Homo sapiens: one gene and its partner. The protein of the gene in region 1 interacts with the protein of each later gene in a pairwise test. Each region holds a gene or a part of one and is shown on either strand. Other genes may lie near its edges.

The links.
Region 2: the proteins of TCP10L (region 1) and MXD4 interact in binary tests that used the Homo sapiens proteins (3 or more experiments, as listed by UniProt).

The regions. Positions count from the first base shown.
Region 1 is NC_000021.9:32,575,504-32,582,536, forward strand, and holds part of TCP10L (T-complex protein 10A homolog 1), read right to left. Parts: intron 6,913-7,033; coding exon 6,697-6,912; intron 3,329-6,696; coding exon 3,191-3,328; intron 1,421-3,190; coding exon 1,271-1,420; 3' UTR 1-1,270. Other genes in the region: CFAP298-TCP10L (uncharacterized protein LOC110091775), read right to left, coding at 1,271-1,420, 3,191-3,328, 6,697-6,912. UniProt on the Homo sapiens protein: May be involved in transcriptional regulation. Has in vitro transcription inhibition activity. Acts as a tumor suppressor in hepatocellular carcinoma (HCC) cells.
Region 2 is NC_000004.12:2,246,900-2,252,110, reverse strand, and holds the end of MXD4 (max dimerization protein 4), read left to right. Parts: intron 1-864; coding exon 865-1,027; intron 1,028-1,409; coding exon 1,410-1,567; 3' UTR 1,568-4,679; downstream 4,680-5,211. UniProt on the Homo sapiens protein: Transcriptional repressor. Binds with MAX to form a sequence-specific DNA-binding protein complex which recognizes the core sequence 5'-CAC[GA]TG-3'.

The DNA of each region.
Region 1 (7,033 bases):
GGGAAGGAGTCCAGGTGCCAGGCAGCCCAGGGCGAGTGGTGCCCACAGGCTTGGGCTGTGCTGTGCATAAGGGCCACACCTGAAGCTCGGCCACACCTGAGGCTCGGCCACCACATAGGCCCCGTTTCTTTACCAAGATAGGTTCCTGCAGAGGTCGTGAAGCTGCTGTGGTCATTTGCTGGCAGCGACGTGAAGATAGAATTCTTTCCTGACTCAACCAGGGGCACTCTCGTCTCCTCCCCGTGAGACCCGCAATGCAGGAAGCACCCACAGCTGCATGGACAGAACTGGGGCCTGGGAAAGAGGCCAGGAAGGTGCCAGATGAGAGGGCGCTCCATCAGGGTGGCAGCAATGCCATGGGCTGGCAAATGGAGAAAGGGGAACAAAGCACCCAAGTGCATCTAGCCCCAGCCACACGCCTTCTGCTGGGAGTGTGCTCAGAGGGAAGTGACCGCTAGGATTCGGAATCTCCAGTCACGGCCCCTGGAGACCGGCATGTGGGCTGTGTGTGGGGTGGAGGGCTGGGGGTGTTGGCAAGTCTCACAGGTGAGGACCCAACGAGGGAATCAGACAAAAAGTGGCCACAAATTAGGCAGCTCCAGGAAGGACATGTCCTTGCCATAGTAAGATGTTCTGCTCACGCGTATCCACGAGAAAGCCCCGCATTTCACGGGGAGCATAGAAACAGGAGTCCCCAACTCTGCTCACCAGCTCCTCCGGCTGCTGCCATCTGCTCCTGCAGCATGGCGGCCTGGGAAGCCTGCACTGGTGATTTTCTGCCACTCAAGTTTTGCAGACTTCGGGAAGATGGATGCATAGCCTGGGGCAATGACAGTCACAGGCCCGCCTTGTCACAAGGTCCCTGGAGCGGGCAATGCCTTGAGCCCAAAGGCTGGGAGCACAAAGCCATCTTCAGCCATCCTCGATTTCCAGCAAGACCCCAGGGCTCACCCAACAGCCCGACACTCCATACTACAAGGTGGGTTAATTTTTTTAAAGACTCTGCAGAAATATACCAACTACAGAGCTCAGGAAAGCAACTGATTTATAAAACCCAATCCAAGTTGTTTGCTTTTATAGCATTAGAGACATGTCTGAAGAACTTCAAGTTTTTATCTATAGAAACATAATTAGTTTAATAAATTACTAGGTCTATTTTGAATAACAAATTGAGTACTTTTATTAGACCTAAGTGGAACTTTATCTGAATCTGAATTTTCCAAGGGGCCAGTGTAGAGTGACACAGGTGTCCGAGGCCACCTTTCCATCTTCAGACACCCCCCCGTCTCTCTGCACAGGGAGTTGGCCTTCCAGTAGGTGTTGCTCTTCTGTCTTGACGTCTCCTGGAAAGATTTTTATCTCTATTTTCCTGTGGTGGTGTTTTCCACGAGCTAATTCTTTCTATCTTTAAACTCATTGGCTGAAAACAAATGTGGGAATATTTTTGCATTAGTAACAATTATATTATTTTTAAATGTTAAGCAACACATCATACCAGCTATCACAGAATGTAGATGATTCTACTCCCCCTTCCTACAGAAGGACACATGAGGTATCCACACTTAGTGTCTCTCATTCCCCATTTTACAGCCCACGCTCTTGTGAAATTTGGGATTCCAATACATGGCTGATATTGTAAAGTCAACAGTGAAATAAAGTGCTTGAAACTCAATTCAAAAATGCATAATAAAAATAATTTTCTACATTTTGCACTATTTAACAATTGATGGTTTCAAGGCGTGGATAAGCCACCCATTCAGTTATCTATTTACTCGTACATTGCCCCGCATGCCTGTGATTAACTCAGGTCAATGATGGAGCATGAGAGAAGTCCGCGTCTCACAGGAGGCTGGGCCTGTGCAGTCCACCCTGGGACTTACGATGTTTTGTACTCATAGGATCTGAAAAGGCTCTTTTCCTACTTGTGACAAATGCTTGGAGTAGATTTCTGATCTTCCTTCAGGGAATAAAGTGTTATCTGCTCAGCAGTTGCTTTGGGAAAGAATGCGAGGGGATAAATCATCTTCAGGAGTTGGGGGCGCCTTCTCCATCCACATCAACCCAGTATCAGTTGCTGGCTGTGGACTCACGAGATTTGCTTCCTGAGTATGAGGGTGACACAAAGCTGGGACAGGAAGAGACACACTGGCTGGGAGAATGTTCTAAAGAGGAGCTAATTTTAACAAAGAAAAATGTGATAGAGACTGCCGAGACCAGCTCGGTCAGGAAGACCCTAACCCAGCAGTGCTAGAGGAATTAAAGACATACGCACGGAAGTATAGCATGTGGAGTGGGAAATCAGGGCACTCACAGCCTTCAGAGCTGAGAGCCGTGAACAGAGATTTACCCACATATTTATTGACAGCAAGCCAGTGATAAATTGTTTCTATAGATTATAGATTAACTAAAAGTATTCCTTATGGGAAACAAAGGGATGGGCCAAAACAAAGGGATGGGCTCTGGCTAGATATCCACAGCAGAAACATGTCCTTAAGGCACAGATCGCTCATGCTACTGTTTGTGGTTTAAGAACGCCTTTAAGCGGTTTTCCACCCTGGGTGGGCCAGGTGTTCCTTGCCATCATTCTGGTAAACCCACAACCTTCAGCGTGGGCATCATGGCCATCACGAACATGTCACAGTGCTGCAGAGATTTTGTTTGTGGCCAGTTTTGGGGCCAGTTTATGGCCAGATCTGGGGGCCTATTCCCAACAAGAGACAAAATAGCATCCTGTACTGTGGCTCCCAAGCTAACAGCGCCACCCCTGTTCAGAGGAGTCCACGCCGACAAGCAGCAGGTGCAAGACCGCAGTGCAGAAGCAGGGAGCACGGGAGGCTGCGAGCCCTCAGACTCACGGGTGGAGACAGTGCCACACACATCACCTCCGCAGCCTGCACCCACGGAAACAAAGCCCCCAAGTCCCCTCGGCCCCAGCCAGACGCTTGCTGCTGTGAGTGTACTCAGAGGGAAGCAGCCGGGAGGACTTGGAATCTGCTCCACAGCAAGAAGTGCTAAGGGTTAGGATCTTGTTTGAAAGGCATGTACCCGTGTCCTTGGAAGAACACAGGACTCCAGGGAGCACCATGCTCACCCAGGGAGGTGAAATTGTGTGGTGAGGAGCTGATGGGATGTGTGTGTTTGGGTACAGAACCTCTGCTTCTCTTTACAGATGATAAGCACAAAGGGTCACCTTTGGAGGAGCTGAATTGTTAGATGACGATCTTTGTCCCAGGAGAGTGGCACTCTGATTCTTGTGGCCAGCGTATTTGGGTATTGTCTCTTCATCAGCTGACAGAGGTGAAATTTTTCCAAAAGCAGGTTCCAATGCCTAAAAGACAAAATGCAGGGAAATTCTTCACATTTTCGAAGGTAAAATAAATTCAAATTTTAATACAATGAAGAATAATTGGAATGTCCTAGAAAAAAATAGGGTACAAGGTAGGGGGACTTGGACTGGGTTTTCCCCCTAATATGTTGATAAGAACAGAAACCCTCACCAAGCGTTTGTGAAGGAACCTTTGTGGAGCCGATGTTTGCTTTGTGTTTCTTATTGTGGTTCCTTGTTTCAAAATGATCACAGGATCCCAAAGGCTACAGAACAAACAATCCCCAACATATCTTCCTTTAGGCTCCTGTGTCTTCAACCGGGAGTGTGTTAACGGAGGAAGAAAATGTGATACTACTTCTAGTGTTGTCTCTACAACTTGTCTAAGATCCAAAATGCAAATTCCCAACTTTCCCTGTTATCAGCAGACTGACCTGGAACAGGGTGATCCTTCAGGTGGGATGAGGTATATTAGGTCTGGAATGCTAAATTATTCACCGTTCTGCCCTCTGAGGAGGAGAAGGGAATGAGAAGGGGAGAGGGTTGCTATGAACGAACCCTTAATATCAGATCCAGAGTGGCTCACCCACACAGCCATGCCCGCGTTCTGTGGGTGCTCGAGTCTCAGCCTTTTAGATATTCAGTCCCTAAAACGGCGACTACACACAGATACACCTTCGCATATTTAAAGTGTGGGATTCACATATCCCATCCTGTTTCTTCAAATCAGGTATGCTCTTGTGAGCGTACATCCTGTTCTTATAAATAGCCCCACGGTGACCAGTGCAATGCACAGAATGGAAAAATATTTGGAAATTCACCAAGCTCTAATCTCAAAATAAGAGAATGATCAAAACTGCAGGGCATGTGAAGACTGAATAAGACTTCATTGACTCTTAGGGTAATTGTTATACAATGACCCAAATGGGGCAGTAGATACTATTTTTTAGGAACTGGCATACAATATATGTAGGGAAAAAAATCCCTGTGAGTCTTCTTGGGTTCTCCCCACAGAAGGTGGACAATCCCGGCCAGTATTTGTGGCAATTTCCCCCACTCTTCCTCTGACAGAGGAACAGCCTGCCCAGCTTCTGCTCTTCCTTCCGCAGAAGGACTCGGCGCTTTGCTGTGCTGAGAGGCTAAACTCACTTTCTTTCTGAGGCAGCAGAAGCCATCTCCATGGAAACAAAGCTCTCGCAGAGCTCCCGAAGAGTGGGAATAACTTCCAAGATTTCCCGTAATTTCTTGTAGAGGAACTTGTGGCAGTTTTTTTTGTTTGTTTGTTTTGTTTTTTTCAGACGGAGTCTTGCTCTGTCCCCCAGGCTGGAGTGCAGTGGCGCGATCTCGGCTCACTGCAAGCTCCACCTCCCTGATTCAGGCCATTCTCCAGCCTCAGCCTCCCGAGTAGCTGGGACTATAGGCACCCGCCACCACACCTGGCTAATGTTTTTGTATTTTTAGTAGAGACGGGGTTTCACCGTGTTAGCCAGGATGGTCTCAATCTCCTGACCTCACGATCCACCTGCCTCGGCCTCCCAAAGTGCTGGGATTACAGGTGTGAGCCACCGCGCCCAGCTGTGGCTGTTTTTGCTGTGCTTGGAGAACAAACCACAGAGCAGTCTCCTCTGGAATGTATTCGGTGGGTGCCTGTGTGTGTGTGTGTGTGTGTGTGTGTGTGTGTGTGTGTGTTGTAATCACTGTGCTGTATCGGAAATATTCTAAGTCCTGGAAGTACCGATTTAAAAGTTCACACAATAAATGCAGCTAGGAAATGTTAGTACTTTTCTTAATCCACTAAGAAATATCCCCACTTACGTTTGGAGGGTGTTCATGTGGTTTCATGTGTTGTTACCTGTATGTATAATTTTAATGATTCAAGTTATTTAGATCCATATGCAGGAAACAGAACCCAGACAAGGCAGTGATAACACTGGCCACATTCACACTCTCTTAGGCTGGTTCTTTGAGCGGTGTGATCAAACGTGAAAGCTCAGTGTTCTGTAGAGGCAGGCTGGTGCTGGGAGGCACCCACTACTTCAGCATGAGAATGCTGGTTCTTCGTTCGGGATAGAGCAGGTTAGTGATACAGGATGGGGGCAGGAAAGTCCTGGGTGGAGAAGAACGGGGTCCCTGGCTAGGGCTCGACCCCTGGGCCTGTGCCCATGGACCTACGCATTTCTGCTTTTGTGCCCAAATGTTGCATTTCCCAAGACCACCGTGGCCTGCCACACTCCCATCCTATGCCTATAAAAACCCCAAGACCCTAGCGGGCAGAGACCAAGCGGCTGGATGTCGAGAAGAACACACCGGCAGAAGAGCACACCAGCAGACACAGCAGACGCCAGCAGGCCATCGACTGGCGGAATGACACGGAGTTTGCTTGGGGTGGTCAGGGGAGAGCCCGGTCACTGGGCAGCCCAACTCCCAAGGGGAAAACTGCCTTCCCACTCCATCTCCCTTCTGGCTCCCCCATCTGCTGACAGGTATCACCACTCAATAAAAAACCTTGCACCCATCCTCCAAGCCCATGTGTGATCTGATTTTTCAGGTACACCAAGGCAAGAACCCAGGATACAGAAAGCCCTCTGTCCTTGTGATAAGGCAGAGGGTCTAATTGAGCTGATAAACACAAGCTGCCTACGGAGGGGTAAACTGAAAGAGCTCCCGCACTGTAACACACACCCTCTGGGGCTTCAGCTGGAAACATTCACCCCCAGACACTGCCGTGGGGTCAGAGCCCCATAGCCTGCCGGTCTGTACACTCCCCTAGAGGTTTGAGCAGTGGGGAACCAAAGAAGCGAGCCACACCCCCATCGCACACCCTGCGAGGGGGACAAGGGAACTTTTCCCGTTTCAACAGGTCTCTATTGCATTCTACACAGCTGTCCTAGAGGATGAACAGAAGGACACCAGGCTACTGAGCTGGCTCTGGAGTCACCCTGGGTTCAAATCCCAGCTCTACGTTCTCCAGCCCGTGGCCACGATGGGGTTAGTAATAGGATCCATTTCATAGGGTCGTCATAGAGAGTAAGACCGTAAAGCTCCGTACCTAGCCCATGTAAAGTCCACAGTAAGGGTTTGCTGCTGTTGTCCTGAGACATCATGAGATGTCTTAGAATTCTGGACTTGAGACACACGGCCTGGGGGCGGCAATGCTTCTGTCTGCTGGAGTGCCAGGTGAGAGGCCTGATGTATCCAGTTCTTATTAATCATTACTTACGGGAAATGGAGTTGATGGAAAGATAGCAACCCCTCCCACCACCCGGAGCGTGAGTGATACCGCGTCATTCAGCAATAAAGCCCACATCTTTATGGGGACGCTATTTTTACATAACGCAAACGGTACAAAAACATAAATGCGCTTTTGGTACCAGAGTGTGCGATTCTTGCCCCGCGTGTGGGGACGCTGCAGATTTCTTCCTGGCTTTCCACCGCTGCAGCTGCAGAGCTCTCAGCTTTTCTCGGAGCTCCATGTTCTGCTCCCTCAAAGCATCTATATGACTCCGGAGTTTTCCATGAACATCAGCCCACAGAGACTTCTGTCTCCCAAGCTCTTGGTGGAGTCTGATGATCTGCTGCTGTAATGGCTGTTATTGGGAAGAGAACACCAGAAAAACCTCTCAGATGTCACAATGGGCACATTTATCTGCAAAATACTCAAGCCCTCTCTGATGTAAGACCAACACTATTTCTGGAATAAAAGACACC
Region 2 (5,211 bases), on another chromosome or scaffold:
GGGGACAGATTGCTCTCTGGGGTCCTGGGCTGTGAAGAGGCAGCTGCTGGAAGGAGAGAGGGGGCCAGGGTTTCCTGGGTGCCATCAGAAGGCAGACTAAAAGTAGGCAGCCTGATGGGGGTGCCAGGGTGGGGTTGGGGCAGCGGGAGCTGGCAGTGGGTCTGGGCTCAGGGAGACATTCCCTGGGACCGCCCCCCAAAGGACTTTTGACAGCCCTGTTGGTTTGGGGGCCTTGTGACATTTGGACCAACCAGGGCAAATCTCTATCTGCTCTGAGGGCCTCTTCTGCCTGCATAGGCATGGTCACCTTCAGGCTGGGGTGTCAGGAGCTTTGAGAGGGGCACAACCAGAGCCCTGGGGGCCCTCACAGAGCAAGCAGTGTCTCAGTGGGGCCCACAGGAAGGTTTAGAGAGGGCAGGGCACAGGTGTTGCAGGGACAGGCATGGCATAGGCCACAGCCCGATGGGGGCGGGCAGGGCTGGGAGTGTGTGAGGAGACCCGCTGTAAGCAGGACTGTCCTGGAGACGGTGCCAGCCAAAGATTGGGTAGCACTGACCCGCTGCCACACATGGCTCAACTTGGCCAAGGCTGCCTGGTGGCTGCGGGTATTAGAGCTGGGCCGTAGACAGAAACCACAGGGCTGGGAGGTGGCATCTGACTGTGACCGCCTGGCTGGGGCAGGGAGGGACCCACCTCAGGCTGTGGGGCTGGCAGAGACTGGGCACCCTGTGGCCTGTAGCCTTGGCTAGGTCTTGGCAGGGATGGGGAACCTCCCGGGCCCAGGCCTGGGTGCCCCAGTGCCTGGCCAGGGGGATGGGGGGACTCCTCTTCCCGCTGTGAGCTCACAGCCCCCCTCGACCCCAGAAACTGGAGGAGCAGGACCGCCGGGCACTGAGCATCAAGGAGCAGCTGCAGCAGGAGCATCGTTTCCTGAAGCGGCGCCTGGAGCAGCTGTCGGTGCAGAGCGTGGAGCGCGTGCGCACAGATAGCACGGGCTCTGCTGTCTCCACGGACGACTCAGAGCAAGGTGGGGCGTGGGGCGCGGGGCAGCCTCACCTGGGCCTCCGGGTGCGCAGTGGTGCAGCTCCCTGGGTGGAGAGGAGGTGCCTGGTGCTGGGGCTGGGGAGAACCCTCCCAGCTCCCTGCTGCACTGGGGTGTGTGTTTGTCACTAAGCGCAGAAGGGACTGGACAGGGAGGGTGGGATGCAGAGGCTGTGTGGCCCGCTGAGGACTGGTGCTTCTGAGGCCGGGTTCTCAGCCAGAGCCCTCCTGGCGTCTGCTGCCCCAGGGCCCAGACAGCGCCCTCCGCACTTCTGCCCCTCTGCCTAGAGCTTCTGCTTCCAGAAAAGGGAGAAATGGGCTGGCACCCTCAGAGTGGCCTGACCCCATCCCCACTCTATTCTCCCTAGAAGTGGACATAGAGGGCATGGAGTTTGGCCCTGGTGAGCTGGACAGTGTTGGCAGCAGCAGTGACGCGGACGACCACTACAGCCTGCAGAGTGGCACCGGCGGCGACAGTGGCTTCGGGCCCCACTGCCGGCGGCTGGGCCGCCCCGCCCTCTCGTAGGCCCGTGCCCTCTGCTCCTTGGCCTGCCTGCCCGCCAGCCACGCGTGTCAGCCCTCCAGTTCTCCTTCAGTTGACGCCAGCCTCTCCACAGGCCCACTGCTGTGCCATTCTGGAAGCTCCAGCTGCTGCTGGGCTGCCTGGCACTGCCCGCTTGCCGGTCAGGGCCTGCCGAGCTGCCTGCCCCTTCCAGCTGGGCAGAGTCCCCTGCAAGGAGGCAGGGCCCAGCTTCCACATCCGGAGCCCTGGTCAGCATAGCCGCCCACGGTCTGTTCTCAGATTCCTAATCATTCCAGAAGTATTAAACGTCATTGCTGCAAACCTCGGCAGGTGCCGTGTGAGGGGCTTAATGACCACCACAGGGAGCTCAGACCCCAACCCTGGATCCCAGGAGAAAGGAGTGGACCGAGGAAGGAAGGAAGGCAAGGCTGTCTGTCCATCCGTCCGTCTGTCCACCTACCTGTCAGTCCACATAGGCTCCTGGCGTGGACAAGGGGTCTGTGAAGGGCGGGAACTGGGTGAGCACCTGGGGCAGGTGGGTGGTTAAGGTCCTTCCCACTTCGCAGGTGTCAGAACCTAGGGCTGGGCTCTCGGGGCCAGGCAGGCCAGCCCAGCCCACGCCGAGCTGGGCAGCGTCTGCTCTGGTAGGACTGTCAGACGCACACGCGCACGCACCTAGACACACCCACTCATGTACATGCTCACACATGCAGACACACCTGGGCGTCCCGAGGTCACATGTTCTGGGGATGATGGCCTTCAGGGGTCATCTGGCAAACAGCCCCTGGGCTGTGCCTGGATCCCCCTCTAGCTCCTGCTCACCCACGCCCACCCAGTAGTCCTGCCTGTCTGCACAGGAGAGGGGCTTCTCTTCCTGGCTGGGGCTGGGGTGAACTGGAGGCTGGTTAAGTTGCAGCCGCTGGGTCCTCGGGGGCTTACTCATCTCCCTTTTTTAAACAAAAAGCAAAAAAGTAAAATGCTGCACTGCCCAGCAGCCCGGTTAGGGCTCCTGGAGCCACCTTAGGAAAGGGCTTCTCATGAGCTCTGCTGCGGCAGCTTCAGCTGGCAGAGAGGCTTTCCCAGAAAAAAAAAAAAAACCATTTTTAAAAAGAAGAAAGCCTAAAGACTCTCGGCCTAGGGACGTCCGTGTGTGCCGCCTCTGTTTCCTGTACCAGATTTTTGTATTCTATTTTCCTAGCTGTTGTTGCGTCCTTGTTTGCTGAGGGGTGGGAGCCACCCAGCGTCTCAGGGACCTGTCCCTCCGTCACGTCGTCAAAGTGTGCCTTGTGTCTTGTGTCAGGCCTTGCCCTTCCCACCAGCATGTCCCTCGTGGCTCAGGGTGCCCCAGGCCTGCCCAGCTAGTGCTGTCCTCCCATCTCCTGTGGGCAGCCCCTCCCGGCAGCCAGGGCTTCCTGGAGGCGATGCAGCCAGGCCCCTGTGGGTGGCACGGAGGGGCTGTGACCTGGTCCCCAGTGTTGCCCTCCCCAGTGGCTGGCAGGGGCCTGCTTGCTCACTAGAGAGATGGATTCTCACCTGTCACCTGACTCGAGCCCCCTGCTTCCTGGCCTAGGCGAGGGTTCCAGGTTTCAGACACTGGCAGCCAATGAAGACTGTGCTCGCTGGGTGGTGCAGGCCTGGCACCAGGAGGCTTGCACCCGCCTTTCCTTCCTGACGTCCTCTGTCCTTGGGGCTGGCCCATAGCAGTGCCTGCCGTGCCTCTGGTACATCTGTAGCCAATTCCCATATCATGGGGAAAATTCGTGTCTATTTTCAGTCGTACGCATAGACGCCCCAGGATGGGGGGCCCACTGTGGCGGAAGGGGGTCCCTGGAAACAACTCTGGCACAGAACCTGCCCTGCAGGCTGTAGGGGGCATGGTGCCTGGAGCTGAGGGGCATCCGAACGCGTTGCGGGTGGTTGTGAGGAGGCCTGTCTGCATCTCCTTCCGGCCCCACTGGGGTCCAGGGGTGCCCAGAAAGGAGCTTCCCCTGCCTGCCTGAGTCTGTCCCCCCAGGCTTCATTTCAAACACCGTGGCACCTCCGAGCAAGGCGGGCCGTGTGTAAAAGCTTGCTTCCCCAGCCAGCACTGCAGGGCCCTGAGGTGGTCGTGTCCCTGCCCTCAATTCTTGAAGCACCAGCTCCCTGCCCCACCCTCCAGTGCCTGAGGCAGCTAGGGGCTTCTGCTCTCATCTCTGACCAGCAGAATCCACCCGGTGACCAGTGGTGGCCCCTCAGCCCACCCTCCCGGCAGCTCAGCCTGTGGCTCTTGAGGCCGTGGTTCCCACGTGGACTGGGAGGCAGTCTCAGCCACCCGGGGTGCTGTTCAGCTGCCCCTCCCTGCCATCAGCAGGTGGGTGAGGGGTTGCCCACTGGGTGGGGGCCCGTGCTAGGAGTCACCACATGCTCCAACCTCCCACTGCTCCCTGTCAGGGGCCCAGGCTGCCATCACTGGAGGCTGCAGGGACCAAGAGGCCATCACCGTGTCTATAGAGAGCAGACAGAAGCAGAACAGAGCCCGGGGCTCCTGAGCCTCTGCGTGTGCCCTCCCAGCCCACACCAGTGCTCTCGGCCACTGAGCACCCAGACTCAGGCTTGGGTTCCCCAGCCTTATTGGAAGGCAGCTCCCGCATACCAGGATAACCCCCGCAAACCACATAGCAGACCCCCGCCATCCTCGCAGAGTGGGAGAGGCTGCAGCAAGGCTTTGCCTCTGCAGACCCCATCTTAGTGGCACGGTGCTTGGGCCTGTGTCCCCGGGTGGTGGAACCCTGTACCGGTCTGTGGCCCTAGGGTCCCTGCTCTGTCTGCCCCGGCCCGTGCTGTCCGCTGGGTGAGGCAGGCTCCCCCGTGCCCTGCCTCCCTCTGTCAGGGAACCTGGGACCCCCTCCCCACTGCCTGCACAGAGGACCCTGACCCTCGGCCAGCAGGGTGGCCCCAGGTCCATGTTGGGCACTAGGGCAGGTTCCGTGCCAGAGTCGGGGGCCACACGAGGGCCTGGTGCCGGTGAGGGGGGCGTGCGCTAGAGGGGGAAAGGGGCCCCCGGCCACCTGTCCACCGTGTGGGCCGTGCTGTGTCCTTATGTCATTGTAATATAAATACAGATTTTTATATCTCACCCTGCTGGCTCCGGCTCTTTCTGTGGTTGTCACTGTCAGCGTGCTTCGCGCCCTGCCCTCGGCCTCCAAGCAGAAAGCCTGGCCCAATGGCACCACGCCATGTGGCCTTCGGGCCGTGGCCCTCGTTGCCCTACCACAGCCTCTTTCCTGGGAGGCCTGACGGAGCACGGCACCCCGTGCCGCCAACCACACCGGGCCCGCCGTCACAGCTGCCTCCCTGGATGCTGTGGCGCCTGGAGCTGGGTGAAGGTGGGGTTGAGGTGGGCGCCCCCATGGGCCTGTTGGCCAACTGGATGCTCTTGTTGCTCTTGTCCCAGAGGCACTGGGACTTTGCCTCTGGCCCTTGTGCTGGGGCCCTGCTGGCCGAGGACAGCCCGCTCCCTGGGGTGCTCCGTGCCAGCCAGGAGCCCTCTGCACAGAGGCTGCTGGCTCTCAGAGCTGCACTGTGAGAATCGCTCTGTACCTGTTCCCAGAACTACCTGGGCACGGCTTCTGCTTCCTGTCATGGGGACCTGCCGTGCTGAGGTGAAG